Regions from separate parts of the Homo sapiens genome. Here regions 2 and 3 are each linked to region 1. The links come from fine-mapping of genetic effects on gene expression. A gene starts in region 1. Each other region holds a variant in brackets. All regions are shown on one strand. Distances are between the middles of the regions. Region 1 holds the start of SNHG15 (small nucleolar RNA host gene 15). Region 2 overlaps CCM2 (CCM2 scaffold protein). Region 3 overlaps MYO1G (myosin IG).

Region 1 (2,676 bases):
GAAGTATGGGATTTGTATACTGTAAAGTGATTGAATGTATTTACTAGGTGCAATACATAAAATACGAGTTTCAAGCACTGCTCTGCTTTTACTTATAGAACCACGTTCTCACTTTTCTAGCCTGATCATTCAAGACCCTTGAACACATCGTCCTTATCTCCCGCTCCTCATTGAGACCCTTCCAGAACACTACAAACTTGTAATACTTAGCTGTATCACCAGCAAACCATGTCCTTCCCAATTTCAGGACCTTTCAATGTGCTTTCCTCTGCCTGGGGGTGGGTGGGGGGTGGAGAGTAGTTTCCTCCCAACCCATGAAACCTCTCCACAAAGGTAGAAGAGACAGAAAACCATTACTGAATAAGTATTAAACCAGATTGTGATGCCGTACATCACATGCAACCTGCTAAAGGCAACACAAAGACAGAAACTCACTTTTTCTATGCAGCTAAGTAGAGATAGCCCATCACATTATGTAGGTTTTGCAATTTGGAGTCAGGTGCCAAGTTAAGCCTTTGTCCTCCTAAGAAGCTGGACTCTTGGCCCTTTCGTCCCTTAACAATTGCATTTTTTTCTTTCTTTGTTTTTGAGACAGAGTCTCGCTCTGTCTCCAGGCTGGAGTGCAGTGGTGCTATGTCGGCTCACTGCAACCTCCGCCTCCCGGGTTCAAGCGATTCTCCTGCCTCAGCCTCCCGAGTAGCTGGTACTACAGGCACGCTTCACCATGCCCAGCTAATTTTTGTATTTTTAGTAGGGACAGAGTTTCACCATGTTGGCCAGGATGGTCTCGATCTCTTGATCTTGTGATCCGCCCGCCTCAGCCTCCCAAAGTGCTGGGATTGCAGGCGTGAGCCACCGCACCCAGCCAACAATTACACTTCAAGGAGATGGCTCCCAAGAAACATTCCTGAGTTGAACCTGGCCATATAAGAAAAAGACTTGAGTACATTTGGAAAGGAGAGAGGCTGAAATTTTGAAAGAAAAAGGGAGGGGGATGGTTTCTCGTCCCTTCTTTTCCTCAGGGAAAATTAAACCCTATGTATAATTTGTATTTGCCCTTCCACCTGCATCACCTTTCCCACATGCTCCCACAGGCAGGCTCCTGTTCATTCCCAAGGCTCCGTGTCCACATCGTGCTTGGATTCCGCCCGGCCCCGCCTGTGCGGCCGCACCAGGAAGGCACCACCCATTAGGGGCTCAGCGCGTCCCTCCAGGCCACGCCGTCAGGCCTCCGTCCTTTTAGCTGTAGGGGCAGATTACGTAACTCCAGCCTTCTGGTCACTAAAGGAGGGTAACAAAGGGCGGTCGAGAGACTCCACTGAGTTGACACGCAGACGCAGCCTCAGGACCCTAAACTCTACGCCCCAGCACACCCTACCAAGCGAGCGCCCGCGGCCGCGTGACGTCATCTACCCCAAACGCTGTGGCCCCGGCCACGCACGGCTTCGGGGCGGGACTACGCGGTGACGTCGAGGTGCGCGGCGCAGCGCGCGGCGTCAGTCTTGGCTGGCAGACCTGTACTCCGTACTCCGTACTTCGTAGTCGCAGCGGCGCGGTCTTCGGCAGTCTAGTCATCCACCGCCATCCTGGGCCCCACGTGTTGCCTGACCATTCCTGAGCCCAGGTAGGGGTCCTGGGGGATTGGGTTCAGTGGCGGGCGGCGTGGGAGGCTGGGCCGCAGTGAGTGGGGGCACCAGTGATTCTTGGAGACCAAGCCTTCACTACACGTGCTACTTCCTCTCAAGAGGCGGTTGAGCGCGTTCGGAACATTTTACCCGGAGGAGACTCGGGGATTACTTGATGAGTAACCTCGTGCTTCTCTTTCAGCCGAGAAGTGGGGCTTCTGCATGACCTGGGTGGACCCCAGTAGGTGGGATGGGACGTGTGGTCAGGAGGGACCTCACCGGAAGGCATGGGGTGGCGTGTAGACCTGCCGCAAGAGAGGCTGTAGAGTGGGCCAGGCGTTGCAAGGAGCTAGAGCTGGATAATGGTTCAGAGGCACAAGCTGAAGCTAACTGCGTTTGGAGCTAACTGCATTTGTTCCCTTCTAGGTGGGAGCCGTGGCTGAGGTGACGGTCTCAAAGTGGAAGAGCTTACTGTCACAGCAACTCCTTTGCAAGATGCCCCGGTAAATCACGTTGCAGAGACCCCAACTCTGCCTTCCTGGAACTAGGCCTGCGTTTTCTCTGAACCATTATTTCATGGGGAAAATGAAATCTACTTCATGTGCCTGGTCTACTTACTCCTTCAGAAGTGATTTCTGAGCCGTAAGATACATGAGAAAAAAATGAAGGGGAAAAGGCAGTATTTATATTAACTACATGATGATAAGGATGTTTCTGGTCACAGTGAAAAGCCATGCTAGAATTGTAGTGTCATAGAATAATGTGGAAGTTTAGTTCGTGTTGTCTGATCTATTTAATAATTTAATAAGGTTATCTCTTCCAAGACACCTTCCCTTCTTCCTCAGCCAGAAAGGATCTTTCCCTGAGAGTCATTAGTAGCTCTGGGCTCCTGGAACCAAGCTCAGGTGCCTAATTGAACTCTGGTCTCTTCCCACAGCCCCCAGCAGGGACTGGTGCTTAGTGAGAGTGGACTGCCAGATTCCTTGAGTGTGGGGGATTTGGGTGAATGAGGGTAGCAAGCCTCCAGCGTGCTTGGGTCTGCGGTGACCCT
Region 2 (2,676 bases), 75 kb before region 1:
GGCTAAGGTGGGCAGATCACCTGAGGTTGGGAGTTCGAAACCAGCCTGACCAACATGGAGAAACCCCGTCTCTACTAAAAATACAAAATTAGCTGGACGTGGTGGTGCATGCCTGTAATCTCAGCTACTCAGGAGGCTGAGGCAGGATAATTGCTTGAACCCGGGAGGCGGAGGTTGTGGTGAGCCAAGACTGCGCCATTATACTCCAGCCTGGGCAACAAGAGCAAAACTCCATCTCAAAAAAAAAAAAGAAAGAAAAGAGCTGATTAGGCCACGAGAGCTCTGCCCTTGTGAGCACATTAATGCTGTTATCCTGGGAGAGGGTTTGTTATCTCAGGAGCAGGTTCCTGATGAAAGGATGAATTTGACCCCCTTCCCTCTCCTGCCCTTCCACCTTTCGCCCTGGGATAACATAAGATGCAGATGCAGCCCCTCACCAGCTGTGCCCTTCAACCTTAAACCTCCTAGCCTCCAGAACGATACGATTTTTTTTTTTTTTTTGAGACAGGGTCTCACTCTATCACACAGGCTGGGGTGCAGAGGCGTGATCTTGGCTCACTGCAACCTCTGCCTCCCAGGCTCAAAGCAATTGTCCCACCTTAGCCTCCTGAGTAGCTGGTACTACAGGTGTGTGTCACCACGCCTGGCTAATTTTTGTAGAGACAGGGTTTTGCCATGTAGCCCAGGCTGGTCTCGAACTCTTGGACTTAAGCAATCTGCTCACCGCAGCTTCCCAAAGTGCTGGGATTACAGGTGTGAGGCACCATGCACAGCCTAGAAATATCTATTCATTATAAATTTCCCAGTCTGTGGTATCTGTTATAGCAGCACAAAACATTTAGTAAAAAGGTTTTTTTGGTCACACATGGCCATGAGGCACTTGGCTTAGCAAACCTCCATAATGCAGGGCCTCAGGTGTAGAAGGCTGTGGGCAGCAGCACTGTACCTGCTGTGCTCCTGCCTGCATCTTACCAACCACCATAACATTTTCAATGTTTCTGTTTTTTAAAATGGGTTGCTGATTCTTCCCAAGAACAGGCTTCTTGCACTCAACATTTCTCAGTTGTTCATTACCTCACACAGTTAAGTTCTCTATTAAAAAAGAATGAAATGGGACTTTCCAATTTCCTGTCCAGCTTGTAAAGGCTCAGAAGTCATCACTCCCATCCTCACAACAAGAAAGCTGGCAAACTTAAAATCAATGACTGTTCTCAGATCCATCAGATAATTGAGGTCACATGAAAAAACAATAACCCCAAAGATGGAGAGACAGATATGCAATGCTAAGAATCACAGCTCATTGCGGGGCAGAAACCCTAGAGCCAGCACCAGCAGAGAGGAAAGGGGAACTGACAAATGGCAG[A/C]GACTGAGCATGGACCAGTAGGAGACAAAAACTCCAGGGGAATAGTCACTGGGGAGGTCCCCATACCAGTCTGAGTTTTACCTCCATGAGCCCCACCAGGCTCTCAGGGTGAGACTGGAGAAACATCTCCTCATACTCTGGTAGGAGGAGGGAAGAATACATCATTTAAAAGTATAACCAGGCCAGGTGTGGTGGCTCATGCCCATAATCCCAGGACTTTGGATGGCCAAGGCGGCAGGTTTGCTTGAGGCCAGGAGTTTGAGACCAGCCTGGGAAACATGGTGAGACCCTATCTCTACAACAAGAACAACAACAGCAACAACAACAACAAAATAGTTGGGCACGGCAGTGTGCCTGTGGTGCCAGCTACTCAGGAGGCTGAGATGGGAGGATCATTTGAGCCCAGGAGGTTGAGGCTGCAGTGAGTCATGATGGTGCCACTGCACTCCAGTTTCCCAACCAACATATAAAGGGCTCAGAGGTCATCTCAAAAAAAAAAAAAAAAAAAGAAAGAAAGAAAGAAAAAGGCATGACCAGAGCATTCTGTTATCCTTAACAAAGGGCTTTCCTCAAGGAAAACTATTTTACCAGAGCCTAACCACCTAGGGGTAAGGAAACACCCAATTCCTGCCTCCTCTATCGTTTATGTCTCTCCTAAGGGGGAGGAAAAAAACAAAACTGAGAAGCACATGTGAAGGCCACGGCCCAGGGACACAGGTTCACTAAAACACTGAGACCTAATCCCAGGACTACAGAACACTTCCTCTCCCCTGAAAGCCACATCAACAGGACCCCTGTGTAATAACAGGGATGCACACCTATAAGAACTGCAGGCCTCAGACTCTATTTAAGAAGGAATCTTGAAGAAAACCCAAAAACAATGGAAGACAAAAACAAGGATACACAGGAGATTTTTATCCCCCAGCATCACAAGGGCAGCAAACAGTAAACACAGCCCAACTCCCAGCCAGCCAAACGTACCTCACACTAAGGCCTATTAACCTGACGCCTAAGTTCCTCATATCAGAACCAGACTCAGACATAGTGGAGATTTTGGAACTACCAGATTGGGAATTTAAAACAACTACGATTAATATGGTAATGGCTCTAACGGAAAAAGTAGACATCATGTAAGAACAGATAGGCAGCATAAGCAGAGATGGAAACCCTAAGCAACAATCAGTAGGAAATGCCAGAAAGCAAAAGTCCTGTAACAGCAATGGGGACTGCCTTCAACAAGCTCAAGAGGCTGGACACAGCCAAGGAGAGACTCTCTGAGCTTAAGAATACGTCAACAGAAACTTCCAAACATG
Region 3 (2,676 bases), 21 kb after region 1:
TTCCCGCCAGCCCTACTCTCGATTCCTGCTCAGGTACTGGCACCTGACACCCATCACTCCATGGGCCATAGTCCCTGTGTGGAGTCCAAGGGGTAGGAGCAGAGGGTCCCCAAACAGCACGTCGCAAACATCGATACAAGCAGGAACCAGCACGCTGCTGGCCTCAAGACACCAAAATATCTGGGAAGACATGTGTGTGAGCACATGCATGTGGGGACATACAGGTGGGAACATGGGTATGAGGGCTGTGTGAGGACATGTATGTGAGGACATGTGTATGGGAAGACATATGTGCACAGGTGTCATAAGTGCTCCAGGAACACACTCTGTATCCCTGCCATCTCCCCAGGTGTGGGGTGGGCAGGGTGGGCTCCATCATCTCTCCCCCAGGCCTGGGCCACACTGCCCTGTCCTGTGGTGACAGGTACAAGATGACCTGTGAATACACATGGCCCAACCACCTGCTGGGCTCCGACAAGGCAGCCGTGAGCGCTCTCCTGGAGCAGCACGGGCTGCAGGGGGACGTGGCCTTTGGCCACAGCAAGCTGTTCATCCGCTCACCCCGGACACTGGTCACACTGGAGCAGAGCCGAGCCCGCCTCATCCCCATCATTGTGCTGCTATTGCAGAAGGTGAGGTGGGCGGGGCAGGAAGACATCCACTATGGAGGTGGGGAAAGCTTGTGTCCCAGGGGCCACAAACACACTTGTAAGTTTCACAGGAGTCTCTGCTTGATGGAGACAGGCCAGGGAGTGCTCAATAAATGCTCAGGGCCAGGTTTGGGTCTAAGGGTTAGGGCCTGATTGAATTTGACTGCGTATCCCATCCCACCTGGCCCACCCAGGCATGGCGGGGCACCTTGGCGAGGTGGCGCTGCCGGAGGCTGAGGGCTATCTACACCATCATGCGCTGGTTCCGGAGACACAAGGTGCGGGCTCACCTGGCTGAGCTGCAGCGGCGATTCCAGGCTGCAAGGCAGCCGCCACTCTACGGGCGTGACCTTGTGTGGCCGCTGCCCCCTGCTGTGCTGCAGCCCTTCCAGGACACCTGCCACGCACTCTTCTGCAGGTACTACTCTCAGCCCACCACA[C/G]ATTCCATTCAGCTGGCATCCACTGAATACCTTAACCCATCATCCCGGGCCTGCAGTGCCTGGATGGGAGATACACCAGCCCCCTTGATAGGTGGGAAGGTGGATGCTATGCCACATTAGCTGACTGCTCATGTCCCACAGTTGGTGCAGAGCCCTGACCATCTTGGGTACTGTGGTGGGCATTCAAGGTCCAGGGCTGCAGCCTGCAGGGGGAGGCCCATTAGGGCTGGGAAGTAAGGGGATTCTGCATCTGAGCGGGGTCTTGAGGGCTGAGTAGGAGTTCTCCAGAAGGAGGGGCACAGAGCATGCTCAGAACAGGAGGACACTGGGCGACTGCTGGTCCCTGGGTCACCTTCCAGGAACAAGCGTTAGGCACAAGGGGCCAAGGCCAGAGAGGCCGGCAGAGGTTGGGACATGAAAGGCAGGCAGCACCAGGCTGAGGGCTCAGCTTCCTCTGTGGAGAGGGGGCTCAGGGAGCACATGAACACATGGCCAGCATCTGTCTGACTACATGCCCTCTCCCAGGTGGCGGGCCCGGCAGCTGGTGAAGAACATCCCCCCTTCAGACATGCCCCAGATCAAGGCCAAGGTGGCCGCCATGGGGGCCCTGCAAGGGCTTCGTCAGGACTGGGGCTGCCGACGGGCCTGGGCCCGAGACTACCTGTCCTCTGTAAGTGCCAGGCGAGTCCAGGGCTGCCAGGGGGAAGTGGGCTGCCAAAGAGGGCTCTCGGCTAATGCTGTGACCAGGTCCCCTCAGATGTCCTCTCCCAGGCCTGGGGTTGTCTGTCCTGGTGGCCCTGTACCTCAGCCCCCACCAGAGCTCTGCAAGGTCTCATCCTGGGCTTCAGGAGCAGTGGCCTTCGGGGGTGGGTGTGGATGACAGGAGGGCCAGGCTCAGATGCAGCCTAGAAGTCAACACAAGAGGGCTCTGTGCCCTCAGGAAATCCAGGGCTGCTCAGCTCACGCACAAGTCTGTGTGACTCAGTTTCCCGAGATGAAGGATAGCTATGCTGATTCACAGACAGCTGCTATCAATTGAGTCTGGTCCCATGACTCAATCCCAAGCAGCGCCCCCTCCCCTCCATCTGTCCTCAGGCCACTGACAATCCCACAGCATCAAGCCTGTTTGCTCAGCGACTAAAGACACTTCAGGACAAAGATGGCTTCGGGGCTGTGCTCTTTTCAAGCCATGTCCGCAAGGTTAGACAAGGGACAAGGATGGCTTCAGGGCTGTGCTCTTTTTCTAGCCACGTCTGCAAGGTTAGAAGCTGGTGCAGAGTTTTGGGGGGGCACTTGGGAGAAAATGGAGGCAACCCCAGCCCAGGCCCAGCTGCTCCTGACACTCCCAAAACTGTCGCCAGCGGGGAGGGGAGGCAGTAGGGACTGCCGAAGCCTGGGGCCCTGGTGGGTGACAGGGCAGCACCAGCCTGGGTCCAGCCACCTCTCCCACAGGTGAACCGCTTCCACAAGATCCGGAACCGGGCCCTCCTGCTCACAGACCAGCACCTCTACAAGCTGGACCCTGACCGGCAGTACCGGGTGATGCGGGCCGTGCCCCTTGAGGCGGTGAGCAATGTGGGTGGGGA

The links. PIP is the estimated chance that this variant, and not a neighbour inherited with it, causes the effect.
Region 2: its variant is the best candidate, but not a certain one, in a credible set for the expression of SNHG15 in whole blood (TOPMed, PIP 0.52).
Region 3: its variant is the best candidate, but not a certain one, in a credible set for the expression of SNHG15 in whole blood (TOPMed, PIP 0.84).

What each region holds. Positions count from the first base shown.
Region 1 is chr7:44,985,473-44,988,148 of GRCh38, reverse strand. It overlaps SNHG15 (small nucleolar RNA host gene 15), which reads left to right and starts at 1,453. Exons shown (of 3, transcript NR_152597.1): 1 at 1,453-1,624. SNORA9 (small nucleolar RNA, H/ACA box 9) reads left to right here and starts at 2,639; the gene lies at 2,639-2,676. RefSeq lists enhancers at 860-1,607, 1,643-1,762, 1,608-2,354.
Region 2 is chr7:45,060,652-45,063,327 of GRCh38, reverse strand. All of the region lies in intron 2 of CCM2 (CCM2 scaffold protein), which reads right to left. Among named protein-coding and RNA genes, the nearest start is that of NACAD, 27 kb to the left of the region's middle. The variant A/C (reference allele first, on the strand shown) is at 1,364.
Region 3 is chr7:44,964,029-44,966,704 of GRCh38, reverse strand. It overlaps MYO1G (myosin IG), which reads left to right. Exons shown (of 22, transcript NM_033054.3): 15 at 1-33; 16 at 425-632; 17 at 845-1,068; 18 at 1,616-1,760; 19 at 2,186-2,290; 20 at 2,543-2,656. Among named protein-coding and RNA genes, the nearest start is that of MYO1G, 14 kb to the left of the region's middle. RefSeq lists an enhancer at 548-647. The variant C/G (reference allele first, on the strand shown) is at 1,091.